3 separate regions of the Homo sapiens genome follow, and regions 1 and 3 are each linked to region 2. Evidence: fine-mapped expression QTL. A gene starts in region 2. Each other region holds a variant in brackets. All regions are shown on one strand. Distances are from middle to middle. Region 1 has its middle 38 kb from the start of F2R. Region 2 holds the start of F2R (coagulation factor II thrombin receptor). Region 3 overlaps IQGAP2 (IQ motif containing GTPase activating protein 2).

The links. PIP is the estimated chance that this variant, and not a neighbour inherited with it, causes the effect. A credible set is the group of variants that fine-mapping cannot tell apart.
Region 1: its variant is the best candidate, but not a certain one, in a credible set for the expression of F2R in whole blood (TOPMed, PIP 0.59).
Region 3: its variant is the best candidate, but not a certain one, in a credible set for the expression of F2R in aorta (GTEx, PIP 0.86).

Annotation. Positions count from the first base shown.
Region 1 is chr5:76,752,344-76,756,586 of GRCh38, forward strand. No RefSeq gene overlaps it. Among named protein-coding and RNA genes, the nearest start is that of F2R, 38 kb to the left of the region's middle. The variant G/A (reference allele first, on the strand shown) is at 2,323.
Region 2 is chr5:76,713,513-76,717,755 of GRCh38, forward strand. F2R (coagulation factor II thrombin receptor) reads left to right here and starts at 2,614. Exons shown (of 2, transcript NM_001992.5): 1 at 2,614-2,883. The coding sequence starts at 2,796. RefSeq lists a silencer at 2,420-2,669.
Region 3 is chr5:76,685,558-76,689,800 of GRCh38, forward strand. The region is part of intron 30 of IQGAP2 (IQ motif containing GTPase activating protein 2); the gene reads left to right. Among named protein-coding and RNA genes, the nearest start is that of NCRUPAR, 25 kb to the right of the region's middle. The variant C/T (reference allele first, on the strand shown) is at 2,329.

The sequences.
Region 1 (4,243 bases), 39 kb after region 2:
AGGAGCTCGAGATCAGTCTGGCCAACATGGCAAAAACCGATCGCTACTAAAAATACAAAAAAATTAGCTGGTTGTGGTGGTGCACACCTATCATCCCAGCAACTCAGGAGGCTGAGGCAGAAGGATTGCTTGAGCCTGGGCGGTAGAGGTTGCAGTGAGCCAAGGCTGAACTGCACTCCAGCCTATGCGACAAAGTGAGACCCTGTCTCAGAAAAAAAAAAAAGGCTTCTGAGGAGGAAGATAAACCTTGTGTTTCCAGAATGCTTATAGGACATTTGTAGGCTGTGTTGCCATCTTTTTTCTTCTTGGCCACAATACGTACAAGCCCGATTATCCACTGCTTTCTAGCTCCCAGCAGACTCGAGTTAGTTGTTAAGAAGGAACCATGCTGCTGGAGGCAGAGGCACTACCCACATCCACATATAAAAGAGAGAGAGACAGAAGAACAATGAAAAGCAGAGACGAGCACTCAGAAATGTACAAGAAAATACAAATACATCGATCAAATAGAATGAGGTTGAAAAGTAGATCCACTTTCATGAGTGTACTTTTTGATAAAGAAGGCATTCCATATTAATTGTGAAAGGATACAAATAAATAGCATTGGCTGGGTGGGGTGGCTCACTCTTGTAATCTCAGCCCTTTGGGAGGCCCAGGCGGGTGGATCACTTGAGGTCAGGAGTTCGAGACCAGCTTGGCCATCATGGTGAAACTCCATCTCTAGTAAAAATACAAAAAATTAGGCGGGCGCGGTGGCAGGCGCCTGTAATCCCAGTTACTCGGGAGGCTAAGGCAGAAGAACCACTTGAACCCAGGAGGCAGAGGTTGCAGTGAGCCAAGATCGTGCCACTGCACTCAAGCCTGGGCAACAAAAGCAAAACTCTGTCTCAATAAATAAATAAATAAAAGCATTAAAGAATTGGCTATGCATTTTGGGAGGAGAAAAAATTAGATCCTTACTTTATGCTGCCACATAAATTCCAGGTTAATTAAAAGAGGAAAACATGAAAAACAAGACTCCAGACAAATTAAAAGGAAACATAAGTGAATGTGGTTATAACTTTGGGATAGCATAGACTTCCTTAAGCAAAGAAGCCATAAAATGGATAAATTTCACTAAATAAGCTTTCAAAACATCCAGCTGGCAAAAAAGAACCATAAACAACTTTCAAAAGACAAACTATAGAATGGAAGAAACTATTTCTGGCATATATAACAGACAAAATATTAATAGCCATAATAACATAACAGTGCCTATAAATAATAATAAGAAAGACCAAACCTAATAATATGGAAAATGAATATTTTTATAAGATCAGGTATGAACAGGAATTTCACTGAATACAAATGACTAATAATCATATGAAAATATGTTCAATCTCAACAGCTAAAATGAGTTCTTTTTCACCCTGATTGGCAAAAATAAAAGATTTATAACATCCAATATGGGTGAAGATATGGAGAAATGGAAGCTGTCATTCTCAGTTGAAGAGAATAAATGGATATAGCCTTTTCAGAAAGAAATTTTATTCTATCAAAAATTTTGACTTGCATTCTCTACCACCCACCAATTCCACTGTCAACATCTATTCCAGAAAAACATCCAGAAAAAATAAGGAAATAAGTGGCATAACAATTTCAAAGAAAGAGTTTAAATTGTCCTCAATTCCAGGGAATATACAGAGAAACATCTTCATATGCACAAAATGGCAAGAACGCAAAATATTTCCTTGAGCAATGTCTGCACTAGGAAAAAACTGGAAACCTCAATGTCCATCAGTAAATTATGGCACATCTATAAGATGAGAATGAAAAAGAATGAGACAATTTAATGCATATAGAGTTTATGTTGGGTTGATGAAAATGTTTTGGTTATAAACAGTGGTTTAATATAGATATATACATGTATCTATATACAACACAAAAACAAAGCTACATATTTCTAAAGGTATACATATATATGTACAGATACCTTTAACATGGTTGGGAAGAATATACCCAAATCACTGTTATGCTTTGTTATCCACTAGGAAAGTGAGATTCATGGGCAGGGTCAAAGGGAATGTTTGCTTTAATGTATTGGGTAAACCTTTTATGAGAGAATGTACTCAAATGTTTACCTCTATGATTTAAATTTTCATTTCAAGAAAAACAAAATGCATGTATTGACATGGAAAATTATTTATTCATTCTTTCAATAGTATTCACTGGAAATATAAAACAAACTCAGAAGTTTCAAGGGCCTGTGGTTTAAAACAAACCATTCTATCACCTTGCTAGCAGGAGCAACAAAGGAAGTTAAAATGACTGATGCTCATTATG[G/A]TGCTGCTTAGCCGTGAAGAAAGGACTAAATTATGCTCCATGTACTGTGTTGGAAAATTTCAGGAGTCTAAAGTGAGTCTGGGGATTAATAAATGCAACAGACACTGTCAGTGCTCTGCTCACATTCCTTGAACCTCACTGATTTATTATCCTCTGGCTGGTTTCCAACTGCCCAAATCCATACCTGAAGGTTTTTCTGAAACCAGAAGGCTTATTTCCCGGACACAGTTGCACTCATCAGCAGCCCAAGAGTGCCAGGGAATGAACACACCCTGCTCCCCTGGGAGCAGCACTAATAACCCTCAGGCATTGGTGTGCAAATCCATTAGCTCCCATGCCCCTTGAGTGAGATCTTACACAGTCTCCCAGAGTGGCCAACTAGGTGAGGCTCCAGTCACCCACTGTGCTAACGGGGTTGGTAGCATAGCCTTTAGTGGCTGCTATCCCATCTTTATCATTTCCCCACTTCCCTAGAGGTGCTTCCTGCACGTCCCAGGTAAACTAGTTGTGTTCTTCCAGAGGTAGAGCCTGTCTCAAGATCCGCCTCTGGAAGAATCTACATGAAGGGTATCCAATCCTTTGGCTTCCCTGGGCCACACTGGAAGAAGAAGGACAGTCTTGGGCCGCACATAAAATGCACTGACACTAACAATAGCTGATGAGCTTAAAACAAAATTGCAAAAAAAAAAATCTCATAATGTTTTAAGAAAGTTTACAAATTTGTGTTGGGCCCCATTCAAAGCTGCCCTGGGCTGTGGGTTGGACAATCTTAATCTACACCAGCGCAGAAGGGTAAGCTTCAGTTATGTGAATATTCCTGCATTTGAAACAAGACTTTTTTTCCAATGTTACTGAAAAATGAGGTGTCACTATATACACACACACACACACACCCCAAAATGCTTTTCTGGGCTAGCTTTCTACCCTGCTCCTTGCTTCCCTTCCAGCCTGTCTTCCAACAGTTCAGCTCAGAGTTTATTTAGGGATAACCAGGTATTTTCTTTTGAATTCTCTCAGACTGCAGAGTTGAACAATCTCACAACGGCCAGGTCTACAGCATTCAGATGTCACCTAAGTTTCTGCAAAATGGCCTAAAAACCTCAAGGTCCCATTACTAGAAGGACTTAGTGAACCTTTCCAGGTGGAGTTTTTCTGCTCTTGGCTGTTTGGATCCTGGTCCTTGGGTGTTGCTAGACAGCACTCAGAGCCTGGTGGCTCCTGTTACTGAATTCAGTTCCCTCAAGAGAGGCTGGGCTGCAGCTGCTGCAGTGGGTGGGCACCCTTCCAGCCTCCGTCCACCTCAGTCCTCTGTGCCCCAGGTAGGCCTCTGTGGCCTCATTCCTTGTGTCATCAGTAGACGGTTGACAGTTGTGACTGCAAGTTGTCCAGGATCTTGGCATCTTGAACAAAGAATTGGACAAAATGCCTAGCAAAGCAAAGAGTGAAGCAACGAAAGAACAAAAGCAGGAATTTATTGAAAATGAAAGCACACTCCACAGTGTGGGAGTGCGCGGAGCAGCAGCTCAAGGGCCCGGACACAGAATCTTCTTGGGTCCAATACCCCTAGAAGTTTCCCATTGGCCACCTGATGCTCACCTCATGTAAATAAAGTGGTAGCCCACAATCAGTCTGATTGGTTGCAGAAGGCAGCCAAACAGAGGCTGAAATGGTTACAAAGGTCACACTCCTGTGCAAACATCTGATTGGTTGCAAAAAGCAGCTAGTCAGAGGCTAGGGTGAAGTTACAAAGTTATACTTCTATGCAAACGAAGACTTCGCCCAAAATCAGTCTGATTGTGGACAGCAACCATTCAGAGGCTGGAGTGAAGTTACAAAGTTGCAAACCAAGGCTGGACCTGCAATCAGTCTGATTTGTTGAGTACAGCCAATTTCCCATCTGCGGCAACTCGGCAACTCGACA
Region 2 (4,243 bases):
GCATCCTTTTAAGCTTTATCGTTTTGTAAAATGGTTAAAAATAACATTTTCCACCAATGACACAGATAAAATTTTAAAATGTGGTGGTATTATTCCATTCTTATTTTAAGGATATACATATATGCAATTTGTATGTGGATATGATTTTTTGAATGGTGAACAGAAACTTAGTGGTCAGGTAGCTGGATGCGGTGGCTCATGCCTGTAATCCCAGCACTTTGGGAGGCTAAGGCGGGTGGATCACCTGAGTTCAGGAGTTTGAGGCCAACCTGGCCAATATGGTGAAACCCAGTCTCTACTAAAAATACAAAAAATTAGCCAGGCGCGGTGGTAGGCGCCTGTAATCCCAAGTACTCGGGAGGCTGAGGCAGGAGAATCGCTTGAACCCAGGAGACGGAGGTTGCTGTGAGCCGAGTCCGCGCCATTGCACTCCAGCCTGGGCAACAAGAGTGAAACTCCGCCTCAGGAAAAAAAAGAAAGAAAGAAAATAAGAAAGACAGAGAGAGAGAGAGAGGAAGGAAGGAAGAGAGGAAGGAAGGAAGGAAGAGAGGGAGGGAGGAAGGAAGGAAGGAAGGAAGGAAGGAAGGAAGGAAGGAAGGAGGGGAAACTTAGTGGTCAGATGGCAACTAGGGGAGGGGAGGCAGAAGGTAATTTATTTTTCATTTCATATCCTTCAACTATCAGAAATTTTGTCATATGTGTTTATATTTTCCACTGTGTTTCATTGATTCTAAAATGCCTTTTCTTCATAACCCTGAAATTGGAGTGTTTCTTACAATCATTGGTATGTCACATTTTTTTCTGGCTTGTGGTAATGGGTTAAAATGATAAATTGTAAAATCAATGACGTCTTAGGAATAATGAAAAATAGTTTAATAGTGAATGAAGAACTATGTAATTTTAACTGTTCACATTTACTCTTGGGTATGTTTCCAGAGGATAACTGAACGGGGATAGATTTTAAAAAGCTTTATTTAACTGGGTACTTCCGCAATTTAGTGATCAACTTCTGTGTACAACAAGGTACTGTCCTTTGAGGATGATGGGAGAATACAGGGAAGAACGAAATCGCCTCTGATCGTACTTTCTCCACGGATGTAAGTGTCCGGGCTCTAGTGGGGGAATGATACTCTTCGTGCGAAATTCACTTTTAAAAAAGGCTTAGAAAACTGACCACCGGCTCTCAGCTGCAGCTTATCAACCACAGAACTCCGAATATGCCCGCACATCAGTGCGCTGGGTTAAGAGGAGAAGGGGCTGCGGCTGAGCTTTCCTAGAAACAGCTATTTGGGGACCCATTTCCTGTTGGAGTCTGAAAGGCGCACGCACCAGAGCCAGTGGCAAAGCAACTTAAGCTGCAGGCTCCTCCTGCCCACCCCCAGCCGCGACGCCCCTGGGGGCCCTTAGCAGACTGCCAAGCGAGTGTCCCCGCCCTGTGCCTTGAATTTAGCCAAACTCCTTTAATATCAGGCCTGGCGCGGTGATTCACGCCTGTAATCCCCGCACTTTAGGAGGCTGAGGCAGGAGGATCGCTTGAGGCCAGCAGTGAAATTAGCCGGACATGGTGGCGCGCGCCTTTCTGTGGTCCCAGGTAATCCGGAGGCTGGGGCGAAAGGGTGGCCTGAGCCAGGGAGATCGAGGCTGCAGTGAGCCGTGTTGGCGCCACTGCACTCCAGCCTGGGCGACAGGGCAAGACCCTGCCTCAAAAACAAAACAAACTGTAATATCGTTCAAGAACGTGTGAAGGACACTTGGAAAGTTACCAGGCCATTTCTCTCCTGGGCGCCCGCGGCCCTAGAACGCCGGCCTCACCGGCAGACGCGCGCCCTCCTCCCAGATGCGCAGGTGACCCCGGCGGGCGGCGCGGGAAAGGGAAGAGCTCCGCGAGGCCGCGCGGGGGGGAAGCGGGAGAAGCCGCTCTTCCTATTCCACTCGCAGTCTGCGTGTGGGGGAAACGAGTGCCCGGCGTATGAAACGCCTAACTTCGCGAAATAAAGAGAGACGTATAAAAGTTCAAGAATTCTGTCCAGACTCAAGGGCCCTTTCTCATTTAGGGGCAACCCTGTCACTACATCATAAACTTTTAAATCCGTGATCCCCACGTTACAAAAGCAGAAGTCCCTTTTAGACTTTTAGCGAAAACTGAACTTTGCCGGTGTCCCACACGGAGGGAGGGAGGACGGGAGGCCACGCCAGGGCTGCGGGGCTGCAGGGCGTGGACGCATCCTGGCCGGGGCGTCCACTGTCGACGTCTCCACATCCCAGGAGGGTCGAGACGGCCGCGGGAAGCAGCCTGCGAGCCGTGCGGCCCCATTCCAAGGACCCCGCCAGTGTGAGTCACTGACAGCTTCGCGAATCAACGGTGCCCAGAGGAAAAAACTTCTCATTTGGACTTCTAGGCCCGGCAGTGGCCGGCGGCCAGGGCCCCCCAGTAGGGCAGGGCGGGGCGGGGCGGGGCGCACAGAGCCAGAGGGGCTTGCGAGCGGCGGCTGAGGGACCGCGGGGAGGGGGCGCCGAGCGGCTCCAGCGCAGAGACTCTCACTGCACGCCGGAGGGCGCCCTTCCTCGCTCGCGCCCGCGCGACCGCGCGCCCCAGTCCCGCCCCGCCCCGCTAACCGCCCCAGACACAGCGCTCGCCGAGGGTCGCTTGGACCCTGATCTTACCCGTGGGCACCCTGCGCTCTGCCTGCCGCGAAGACCGGCTCCCCGACCCGCAGAAGTCAGGAGAGAGGGTGAAGCGGAGCAGCCCGAGGCGGGGCAGCCTCCCGGAGCAGCGCCGCGCAGAGCCCGGGACAATGGGGCCGCGGCGGCTGCTGCTGGTGGCCGCCTGCTTCAGTCTGTGCGGCCCGCTGTTGTCTGCCCGCACCCGGGCCCGCAGGCCAGGTGAGAGATGCACGGGAATGGGGTGCGCGGGCGGAGGGACGCCGAGGGGAGACTGCGGGGGTCACTGTTGCGCCTTCTCCTCACCCCTGCCTCAGTTTCCTCCGAAAGCCAAACTGGCATTTGGGCTGAGATCTGGAGTTTTTTCCAGTCACGTTTAGGTGGGGCGTGCCACCCCCTTCGCGGGCCCAGCCGATGCCCCTTTGGACTCGATCTTGGAGGGTGCAGCCCGCCTGCCACGGGGTGTTGGATATGGAGGAGGATGGAGCGGAAGCCCCCTGGGGGAGCCTGCAGTCCTGCGTTGCACTTGTCATTGTGTTTCTCCCAGGACCACCCCCAAAAAGAAAAGCTCTCACGTTGCTCCACCAATAAACGTTTCGATCTTTAAAATATAAAGTGGCGAACCGCTGCCGCTGAAGTTTTGCTTTGTTGGAAGTTTTTTTCTTGCACATTTTACAGGCGAGAAAAGTGATGTAGAGAAAAGCCCAGGCAGTCCCTTGGCATGTTTAGCAGAGAATCAGTACCAGCAGCCCCCGGCCCGGCCTTGTGTCCAGGAGGTGCGCAGGGTGCGAGATATATGGTGACAATAGCAGAGGCTCCGCGTGGTGGCGGGGGAGGGGACATGGAGAGGATTTTGTTGTTACCTAGAACCCATTCCTTCTAAGTGAGTTGAAGAGAGAGATCCCTCCCCAGGACCGGGCTCCCTCGAACACTGTGGGATCCCAGTATTTCTTAACGAGATTTCTGATCCACTGCAAGAAGGTTGCTCCCCTAGAATATTTTCCCCACTAGTAGTCTATTTTTAAGTATCTGGCCACTTGACCAAATAAATAAATTTGATTAATTTATTTGGTCAAATATTTTCTGTATCCCTTTCCCCAAGAGCAGCACAGATGAGTTGTTTTTAGCCTGTAAAGGCGCTAATTAGAAAGTGAGAAAAGTGTTTTTGAATTTCCTAATAACAATAGTATTTTATAAGCTTTGAGCCATTTTTTTTACGCTGAAAGAAGTTCTAGCGGGTTTTCTTGTTATCGCTAAAAGAATGTGCACTCTATATTGCTCCCACACTCAAAAAAAAGTGTAGACACATCAAGATTAAGAGGTGACAAAGACATAGCATGTTCTCGCCTCTCTGTCTTTGTTCAGGGTGAGTTTTGAGATGCTTTTGGGAAAACTAAGAGCTCCAGACTGGGGCCCAGTGTTTAGCAGTAACTAGCCTGCCTGCAGATAAGTGAGCATTGTTGCCGAAAGTGTTTGAGAGAACACCGAGAACTCCTGAAAAATTGTTTGCGATGAGATATGATTTCACATACCATTATGTAATTTGCACAATGTAGTTTGAGGACACGCTCTTGAGAATCCA
Region 3 (4,243 bases), 28 kb before region 2:
TAGGAAATCACATTTAAAGATAAAACCATAAAAGTCAGGCCTGTCTGGAAGCAATGTGTCTTAGCCTGGGAAACCTGGGACATTGTCCTGTTTGCCTTACCCATTACCCAGCCTCTGCCCTTGTGTGGCTCTCCCCCGTCCCCCCCAGTGTGTTGGAAACAAACACTATCCACTTCTTTAATCACCACACTATGTAGAGCCAGCAGTGGGTTTATTTTTTATTGTGGTAAAATACACATAAAACTTACCATTTCAGCCATTTTAAAGTGTACATGCATTTAGTACATTCGCAGTGTGCAACCATCACTGTTGTCTAGTTCCAGAACATTTTTATCAGATGTGAACCCTGTACCCATTAAGTAGTCATTCCCCATTCCCCGCTGCTGCCCAGCCCCTAGCAACTACTAGTCTGCACTCTATGTCTTTGAACTTTTGCCTGAAGATATGAAGTCGTATCTCACTGTGGTTTTGGTTTGTACTTTTCCAATGACCAGTAATGTTGAGGATCCTTCCATATGTTTGTCATCCACTTGTGTATTTATGTATTCTTTTTGGAGAAATGTCTATTTAACTCCTTTGTCCATTTTAAAATTAGGTTGTTTGTGGTTTTGTTCCTCAGTTGTAAGAGTTGTTTATATATTCTGGACACTGGACCATTATCAGATATATGATTTGCAAATATTTTTGCCCCTTGTGTGGGCTTTTTACTCTCTTGATAATGTCCTTTTCCGCACAAATGTTTTTTTTTTTTTATTTTGATGAAGTCCAGTTTATCTGTTTTTTTTGTTGTTGTTGTTGTTGTTGTTGTTGTTACTTGTGAGATTTACCCCAATGTTTTGTTCTAAAGGTTCTATAGTTTTAGCTTTTACAGTTAGGTCTATTAACCCTTTTTGAGTTCATTTTTGTGTGTGGTGTGAGACAGGTGTCCACCTTCATTCTTTCTTGTTGTTATTGTTGTTGTTTTTTGTTTGAGACAGCGTCTCGCTCTGTCGCCCAGGCTGGAGTGCAGTGGCATGATCTCGGGTCACTGCAAGCTCTGCCTCCTGGGTTCATGCCATTCTCCTGCCTCAGCCTCCCAAGTAGCTGGGACTACAGGTGTCTGCCACCATGCCCAGCTAATTTTTTGTGTTTTTAGTAGAGACGGAGTTTCATCATGTCAGCCAGGATGGTCTCCATCTCCTGACCTCATGATCCGCCCACCTCAGCCTCCCAAAGTGCTGGGATTACAGGCGTGAGCCACCACTCCTGGCCCCACCTTCATTCTTTTGCATGTGGATGTCCAGTTGTTCTAGCACTATTAGTTAAACAGACTATTCTTTCTTCATAGAATGGTCTAGGCACCCTTGTCAAAAACTAATTGACAATACATGTATGGCTTTATTTCTGGATTTTCAATTCTACTCCATTCACTTATATGTCTATCCTTGTACTAGTGCCACACCATATTGATCACTGTAGCTTTGTAATGAGTTTTGAAATACGGAAGTCCTCCAACTTCTTTCTTCTTTTTCAAGATTGTTTTAGTCTTGCAGTTGAATAGGTCTCTTGCAGTTATATGTGAATTTTAGGATCAACTTTTCCATTTATGTAAAAAAGGCTTGAGGCCAGTGTTTTAATAGAGGCCCTAAGTCTTTTATGCTCAAAGGCCTTCCTCTTGGCATACTGTGAGATCTTACTGTTGGCCGACCACTTTACTAAGCAGCCCAGTGATCAATGTAGGTAACAATTTGAAATCAACACTGACTGGTTAGCCATCCCTGAAAGTGAAATTTGGATATTGCCCAAAAGGTTCAATAGAATTAGTTCTATGATTTTAGCCAAGCCCTGCTTCTAAATATACTTCCTTTAAAGTACATATTTGAAAAAATCTTGATACTAACAGATAATTACAAAGTGCAGCATTGACAGGGAACCTGAAAACTGAGTCTTTTTCTTGCAGGCAAGGAAACTAAAGTCTAAAAGTACCAGTATCAGTCCATGGCCTGTTAGGAACCAGGCGACACAGCAGGAGGGGAGCAAGTGAAGCTTCATCCTGTATTTACAGCTGCTCCCCATTGCTGGCATTAACACCTGAGCTCCACCTCCTGTCAGATCAGTGGCAGCAGTAGATTCTCATAGGAGTATGAACCCTATTGTGAGCTCCACATGCAAGGGATCTAGGTTGCACACTCCTTATGAGAATCTAATGCCTGATGATCACTGTCTCCCATCACCCACAGATGGGACTGTCTAGTTGTAGGAAAACAAGCTCAGGGCATCCACTCATTCTGTATTATGGTGAGTTGTATAATTATTTCATTATATATTACAATGCAATAATAATAGAAA[C/T]AAAGTGCACAATAAATGTAACGCACTTGAATCATCTTCCCGAAACCATCCCCCACCCTGTCCATGGAAAAATTGTCTTCCACAAAACCTGTCCCTGGTGCCAAAAGGGTTGGGGACCACTCCTTTAAAATATTGATTTGAACTCTCATGAGGATGACTTTTTTGATTTGAACACTCTCATCAGGATGACTTTTTTCCAAGCTAATAAACCGAATTTGTAACTCAAGCATAAGATATAGTTCTTGAGATTCATTAGAGAACCAAATTTAACTAAAATCGGACAATGACTTTTATAAGTTATGAAGTGGACAGACATGAAATGCAGAGCAATTGGGATGTGAAAATACCTAGCTTTTCTCTATCAAAAAACTATTCTGCTTTTTTGTGAAACAGATTGTGTTCTTAACTTTCAGAAATGCCCTTATGTTTAATTACAATGTCACTAGTTTTCCAGTCATGAGTAACTCATCTTCATGGAGGCCCCCACAGTAGCAGAATTTGAGGCATTGTTAATCATTATGTTTGTAAATTTAATTCCATGCTAGTCTCATAATTCTTACTCATCAGATGAAGATGAAGATGATGATAATAGCAAACACCTATGTAGTGCTTACCATGGCCAGGGACAGTTTTTATATACTGTGCAAATGCAAAGTGTTCCAGAATTCCAAACCTTTTGAGAGCTGACAGTGGTCAAAGGAAATGCTCTTTGGAGCGTTTTGAATTTTCGGATTTAGGATGCTGAAGCAGTAAGTATATAATGCAAATGTTCCAAAATCTGAAAAGATAAAAAATCTGAAACACTTTTGGGCCCAAGCATTTTGAAAAAGGGACCCACAATCTGTAAAGAGAGAAAGAGAATAACATGTGCATATATATATATTAAAATAAACATGTATAAAATATGTATGTAATATTCTCAGCAACCCCAAGAGAGTGGAGGTTATTATCAGTATTTTACAGATGAGGAAACTAGGCACAGAACAGGTATAAACCTTTTCCTGGGTAACACAGTTACTAAGTGGAGCAGAGATTCAAACCCACATGATTTGAAATCCTCCAGGGCCCACACTCTTGATCATAAAGTTTTACAACTTGTCGAGGGCAAGGTCATTGTTCTTTGCATTCTTAGGAATCTTAGAATAAATAATGAGAATTATTAGCTGAGCAGTTACTGAGTAACGGAGGCTGGAGCATCTTTCCAGGCCAAAGAGGAGGGACAAAGGGCACATATCGGAGTAGGAAGAAACATTTATTTCTTTTTCCCTTGTGTATGTTTATAGAATAGAGAACCTCAGTTTGGGCTATTGCTATTTTTCTAATACTACCAAGCACAGGGATATTTAAAAAAAAAAAAAAAAAAAAAAAAAACCTGGTCGAGGAATCCTAAAAACCTAGTCGAGGGGTCTTAGGGATGACATAGGGTTATAGCCTCAATCTATCACTTATTAACCATGGAACTCAGCAAGTTGCCTCGCCATCAGTTTTCTCCTCCATAATATAGAGGAGAGGGGAAAGGAAGGGCTATGATGATCACATGAAATTATAATTAATACCACATAAATTATATAAAACTATGCAGTTGTCAACCTTTCATTATAACTTATGATTCAACTTAAAATATGTGATCCTTATGGCCTTAATTAAGCTTAGTTTCCCACAAAAGTATGTGTGTTTAAGTAGAAGGCAATATTTGTGGTTTTTAATCATACTTAGCTGCTTGAGTGCTTAAATTGTCATCTCTTAAGAATTTCCTGTCACATGATTAAGTTTAGGTTCCATGATCCCAGCTGAAAGATTTCCTTGTTTTTTGGTCCAAACTAGCAGGAGCACTAAATGGCTAAGGTGATATTTGAGGTCTGGAGCTAATAATGTAAATTATCTTGTTAGGATGTTAAATACTGAAAATATTCCT